2 linked regions of the Homo sapiens genome follow. The protein of the gene in region 1 purifies or fractionates together with the protein of each later gene. This does not show direct contact. Each region holds a gene or a part of one and is shown in the gene's direction. Other genes may lie near its edges.

Region 1 (2,685 bases):
ATTCTACCAAGGGGATGTGTGCCATGAGGTCTAACCACTGACCTACTCACTGAAATCCGAGAATGAGAATGGGCCAGCCCAGGGGCTTCTACACATATGGGTCATCTCTCAACTCCCTTCTTTTTTTTTTTTTTTTTTTTTTTTTTGAGATGGAGTCTTACTCTGTCACCCAGGCTGGAGTGCAATGGCGCCATTTCAGCTCACTGCAACCTCCGCCTCCCAGGTTCAAGCAATTCTCTGCCTCAGCCTCCCGAGTAGCTGGGATTACAGGCGCCCGCCACCACGCCCAGCTAATTTTTGTATTTTTAATAGAGACGGGGTTTCACCATCTTGGCCAGGCTGATCTTGAACTCCTGACCTCGTGATCCACCTGCCTCAGCCTCCCAAAGTGCTGGGATTACAGGCGTGAGCCACTGCCCCCGGCCCCAACTCCCTTCTTTAGCTTCCCCGTAAACACTGCTGACCCCAAAGCTGCATCAGCTTTTGGCCTCTTCCCCTTTCACCCACACACTGTCCTGGATAACCTCCCCAGTCTCCACCTCTGGCTTAAACATAGATCCATGGGCTGATGGAGACATCTGCCTCCCGAGACCCTGATCTGTGTCCCTCCCCAGGACACTGGGCTCAGAAGCTTCCCCTAAACCTGTTCCTCCTCCCGGTGCCCCCATCTCACGATGGCCCCACCATCCCGCAGTCACGGGCAGACCCCTAGGAGCCATCCTCCTCCTGACCTCCTCCTCGCCCACCTCCCCCACCATCAGTGCCCACCCCTGCCGCCTGACGCTTGTGCCCTGCTCCCCTCTGCCTGCCCCAGCTCAGGCCTCCTCCTCTGCCCTGGACCCTCCCCCAGCCTCCTCTCAAGCTGCCCAGGCTCTAGTCTCCCCAGCCTGGTACCAGAAACGTCTTCCCACACACCCAGAGTGATGCTGCTCACAGCCCCCAGTGGCTCCCCGCTGCCTCCAGGACAAAGTCTGATCTTTTCAGGCTCAGCTTTGAGCCCTGACTGGCCTTCCCTTCTGCACCCCTCCAGCCTCATGCTCTTTTCTCCTCTAAGAAATTTTTGTCCTCATGGTGGTCCACATGCCCCCAGCTCTGTGTTCCTCACACCCACTATACCTGTGTATCACCCTCCCTTTCCAGAATGCCTTTCCCTTCCCCACACAGGAACTCCTGCTCAGCCCTCAAGAACTAGCTCCAATGTCCCCTCCTCCAGGAAGCCTTCCCTGATACCTTTAGGGAGGAACTGGCCACACCCAACATCCCCTCCCCACCCAGGTCAGAGCCCACTTGCCCATCTCCCCTTCTAGACCAGGATGGGGGCCATGTCCAGGTCATTTCTATGCCTTGACACTGACTGGTTTGGGAGTCTGAGAGATGCGAGATGCATGAGTGAGTGAAGGGGCACTGCCTTCCCTCTGAGGTCCTGGCCAGAAGGGGGAAGCCAGGTGGACCAAGAAGAAGGCTGAAATTAGATGGGGGCAGCAAGGCTTCTGGGAGGGGGTGAGATTCGAACAAAGTGCTGAAGAACACGCACTCATGTGCCACGCAAAGACAGGCAGGGAAACAATAGGTGCCAGATGTGTAGGTGGGAGAGCCCTGAGGGCAGGTGGTCTGGGCACTGTACACTGTTCACAGAACCAGAGCTGCCATAAAAGACATGGACTGAGGTAAGTGGGGATCTTGGTTCTGCTGAGATTCAGGGCAAAGAGAGTGACCATGAGGCCTTCCCCAGAGAGTCAGAAGGCGGGTACCTGGCACGCAGTGGCTCACGCCTGTAATCCCAGCACTTTGGGAGGCCGAGGCAGGCAGATCACTTGAGGTCAGGAGTTCGAGACCAGCCTGACCAACATGATGAAACCCTGTCTCTACTAAAAATGCAAAAATGAGCCAGGTGTGGTGGCAGGCGCCTGTAATCCCAGCTACTTGGGAGGGTGAGGTGGGAGAATCACTTGAACCTGGGAGGCAGAGGTTTCAGTGAGCTGAGATGGCGCCACTGCACTCCAGCCTGGGCAACAGAGCGACACTCCATCTCAAAAAAAAAAAAAAAAAAAAAAGACATTGAGGGGCTAGCAGGGGCCTTGAACATGAGGCTGAGGGGCAAGAATTCTGTGGCTCCAGGCACTGGGGAGCTACAGGAGGGCTGTGGGCAGGGGACGGACGGTAGATAAACTTCTCAGCCATCATGCCCTGTCAGCACTGACCAGTGGCACAGGGGACCAGCTTCTGTCCGTGGCCACAGTGATTCAGGCAACAAATAATCACTGAGCCCCCGGGAGGACACAGCACGCCTGGGACCCTCTCCCAGTCTCCTCTCCAGCTGCCCACATCCCTGCCTCCATGGAGCTCACAGTCTGGCTGGCTGGCTGAAAAATAGGCAAAATAACACGCAACCGGGATGAGCTGTGACCAGCCGGGCCAGCCGAATGAGGGGGGATGGGCGGCGTTAACAGTTCGGTAATATCGGAGGAGCAGTGGCATCTGAGTTGCCGTGGAGGGCAAGGCGGAGGGCATGGTGTGGGCAAAAGCCCAGGGGCTTGAGAGTGGTGAATGGCCAGCCGTGGGCAGAACCACGAGGAGAAGCCGAGTGTGGGCTCCAGGCCCGGCCTCCACCCTGGCTGCCCGGGCAGCTCAGCACCATGTCTGCTTCTTCCACAACAGGCCCTCAAAGACCTCAAGGCACTGGGC
Region 2 (3,818 bases), on another chromosome or scaffold:
ATGCTGTAGAGAGCTTTAAACCCCAGGCCAAAGAGTAAGGATTCTGTTAAAGAGGCAGCACCAGTGGTGAAGGGTGGAGTGGACCAGCGTGTGGAAACGTCTGCTGGCAGGGCTGCTGAAGGGGATTCTGAGGGAGGGGCAGTGTGCTGGCAGAGCAGGCTTTAGTGCCACACAGACCCTGGCTCTGCCACCGACAGGCTGTGTGAATTCGACAAGTCCATTAACATTCTGAGCCTCAGTTTCCCCACCAGTCTGACTGGGTGGGGTGGTCTTTGTCATAATGCACATAAAGGCCTCGGCATGGTGCCTGCTGTGACTTGCTGCCCTGCCCTCCCTCCCTTTCCCACTACAGGGCACCCTGCTCCATGAAAGCCACAGGACTAACCCATGGAGGGGCGAGATGGCACCCACGGGTGGGCTCACAGAATAGAACTAAAGCTCTCAGCGTGGTTTCACAGCATTTCCTGAAGTTCCCAAAAGCTCTGCCAGGGAGGCCTCTAGACCTCCAGGGCTAAGGAGGTGGCTTGACTTGTGCAGGTCACCAAGCAGCTACCTGGTGGGGTCAGGACTAGAGCCCAGGCCTCCTGACTCCCAACCCGGCCCAGTACCCTCTCCACTACACATCCACGTGGGGCTCCATGAGCACTCCAGGGGAGACTGCCCAGGGTTCCCCGGGGGTTGAGTGCCCAGGATATGGGAGGAAGACCAGGGCACAGAGAGGAGGGGCCAGCCCAAGAGATTAGGAGGGATTTGTGTCTGGACCTGGAAGGAGCAGTCACACCCGGGCGGCCTTTACCCTGGGTGATGGAGAGCACAGTGGGCCCCGGAGGAGAAGCAAGGGGTGGGGCTGAGGAGCTGGTGGAGGAGGAGCGGCAGGGTGAGAAGTTAGAACCCGGGTCTGTGAGGCAGCCAAGGGGAGGTGCCTCCAGGCAGGAGGGCCCACAGCCCCTGGTTTGGAAAGAGATTGCTGTTAGAGAGGGAGGAAGTCGTGAAGCAGATTTGCACATATGGCTTGTAAAGCTGTTTTCTTTTAGCCCCAACTTGTATATGTGGGAATCAGCCACCTAGAATTGCTGGTTGATTGAAAAGACATTTAAAGGCATAAAGACAAGTCATGGGGAAAGAACTGAGCATAGAGGTGTCCCTTGCGCAGGGGAGAGGGAGAAGCAAAAAACCTAGGAGCTTTTGAGGCTGGAAGGATGGTCGCCTTTGAGAACAGACAGACGGTGGTTGCCTGTGTGACTGTGAGGACAGAAATTTATCTGCTGTGACCCTGCGGAGCACAGAGAAGATGGGATGGCAGAGGGGTTCTGAGAGGGAAGCTCTGGGATACTGGAGGAGGTGGTTTCTCTGGCCACTATGTTGGCCAGCATGTAGGGAGGGGAGTTCCCAAGGTGGTCCCCATCTCCACAGCACTCTCTGTCTCTCTCTCTCTTTCTCTCTCTTTCTGGGTGGCTGGCTGCTTGAATCTGCCTGGTGCTGCCCTGCTTGCAGGAGCTTTCTGGAGCATTCTGGAGCATTCCTGAGCAGCCTTTCTCTCCATACAGATGGGGGATGAGAGCCCCAGAGTTCAAGAGGGATTGCAGGTCGGTGTCTCAGAACCCCCAGGTCCTTGGGCTGCTCAGTGTCTCATCTCAGTGGGGCTGGCCATGACCCAGCTGTCTGCTTCTTTTTCTCTAGTCCAGTTCTGGCAGGGCCACACAGGGATCAGGTACAAGGAGCAGAGGGAGAGCTGTCCCAAGCACGCTGTTCGCTGTGACGGGGTGGTGGACTGCAAGCTGAAGAGTGACGAGCTGGGCTGCGGTAAGGAGGCTGGGTGCGGGGGAGCGCGTGCGTGTGCATGTGCATGTGTTTGTGTGCCTGTTTGTATATGTGTGTGTGTATGCATGCCTGTGTGTGTATATGTGTGCGTGCATGTGTGTGTATGTGCATGTTTGTGTGTATGCATGTATGTGTGTGTGCACGTATGTGTGTGTGCATGTGTGCATGTATGTAATCCAGACCCAATGATTCCCTGTCCATTGCCTCCCATTTGAGCTGATACACAGTTTGCATCAGTCTGTAGCACTCTAGTGACTTTGCATTGGCTCTGTCCATGCTAGGCATCCTGGGCTTCTGAGTACTGGTTAACCCCCATGACCCAGGCCATGTTCCTGGACTTTTCCCAGGCCTCAGCAAGGAGTGCTGTCAGGACAAGCGCTTTCTCAAAGCCTCACTCAGCTCATCCCCCAAGAGCTTGATGCTTCCTAGGTGCTGAGGACCTGCTCTGCCTTTTTCTTGCCCTGCAGTGAGGTTTGACTGGGACAAGTCTCTGCTTAAAATCTACTCTGGGTCCTCCCATCAGTGGCTTCCCATCTGTAGCAGCAACTGGAATGACTCCTACTCAGAGAAGACCTGCCAGCAGCTGGGTTTCGAGAGGTAACCCCCAACCTGGCCCCAGAGTCCAGGCTTCAGGGATGTCTCAGGCTCTTCATAGGGTGTCTCAAGCATGTTGCAGAAACATTATATTAAAAAGACCCTTGGGGACCGGGGCTGATCTCACTAGCTCTGGACACCCTCGAGGTGTTCAGAGTCAGAGGCCCTGAGATCCTATGAGTCTGGAGCAGATTGTTTTCATGAGGCCAACATAATGATGTATAGATCTGCAATAGTATCAGACTCCTAGATGGTTCTTTGCATCAAAGCACGCTCACATCCATTATCACATTCACTGATCGTGGTGGTGGCCCTACGACTTGGGCAGGCATTTGGGCAGATCTTTTCTTCTTATATCTGGGAACTAGAAGCTCAGGTTGTGCAAAGCCTTTCAATGGACTTTGAGCTATAGCTACTGTGTCTTGAGCCAGACCTCATCAAATGGAGAATGAAATGGGGCAGGTGAGGCTAGGCAGAATCATAAGGGTCTTTGGCTCTAAAGATTTTAAACAAATCAGGCAGTGCTAACAGGTAGAGGAGGAAGTAGGTGAGCAATGACCTTCCACTTGAAGAAGTGTCTGATTTTCAGCCCAGACACGCATCTCCATCCTCCCTCTTGGACTGAGTTTTCCAGATGGGTAGTCTTGGGTTTATCAGTGTGTGTGAGGTTGTGGGGAGAGGAGTTTAAGATCTCACTGTGGGTTCTCTACAGAAGAAGCACCAAAAACACCTGGGGTGGGGTGTTAGGATTTAGAACATGTTCTCCACCCCACCTCAGCCTGTCCAGATCCATGAAAGGGGGATGGTAGTAATGCAGATGGAAGACCATGGGCATCTTTTATGAGTTGTGTGGCCTTATGCAAGCCTGAACCTCCTTTAGGTATTCAGGTCTTTGAATGTCACTTATTCAAAGAATATTCATTGAGCTTTTATCGTGTGCTAGATACTGTGTAGTACCTGGACACAAAGGAATAAGACAGGAGCCCAGCCTTGAAGGACCTCTAGTGTGGCTCAGTGAGAGAGACTTAAACCAATAACCACAGCACGATGTGACATGTAATGATGAGGATGTGGGTGAAGCACTAAGGGCATACAGTGGAGAGGGTGCCTAACTGCACTGGTGGAGAGAGCAGAGAATGGGCCCTCTGAGTAGAGGAGCAGCGTGTGCTAAGTGTCATGCCAGGGCGTCACGCAGGGGTGTACCATGTTCTAGAAATATACATATGTTCCATGCAGAGAGTAGAACACATTAGAATCACCCGCCGTGCTTGTGAAAATGCATCTTGGAATCAGAATCTCTGGGATTAGGACTTAGAACCTGCTCAGCAAACATCCCAAGGTGATTCTTAGGCACGCTGTGTTCTAAGATCCAGTGGGCTTGCCCAGAGCTTCTCACGCTTTAA

The links.
Region 2: the proteins of IL4I1 (region 1) and TMPRSS13 purify together in Homo sapiens (affinity purification with western blotting; one study listed by BioGRID). This does not show direct contact.

What each region holds. Positions count from the first base shown.
Region 1 is NC_000019.10:49,891,447-49,894,131, reverse strand, and holds part of IL4I1 (L-amino-acid oxidase isoform 1 precursor), read left to right. Parts: intron 1-2,658; coding exon 2,659-2,685.
Region 2 is NC_000011.10:117,912,377-117,916,194, reverse strand, and holds part of TMPRSS13 (transmembrane protease serine 13), read left to right. Parts: intron 1-1,680; coding exon 1,681-1,803; intron 1,804-2,288; coding exon 2,289-2,418; intron 2,419-3,818. UniProt on the Homo sapiens protein: Serine protease. Cleaves the proform of PRSS8/prostasin to form the active protein. Cleaves the proform of HGF to form the active protein which promotes MAPK signaling.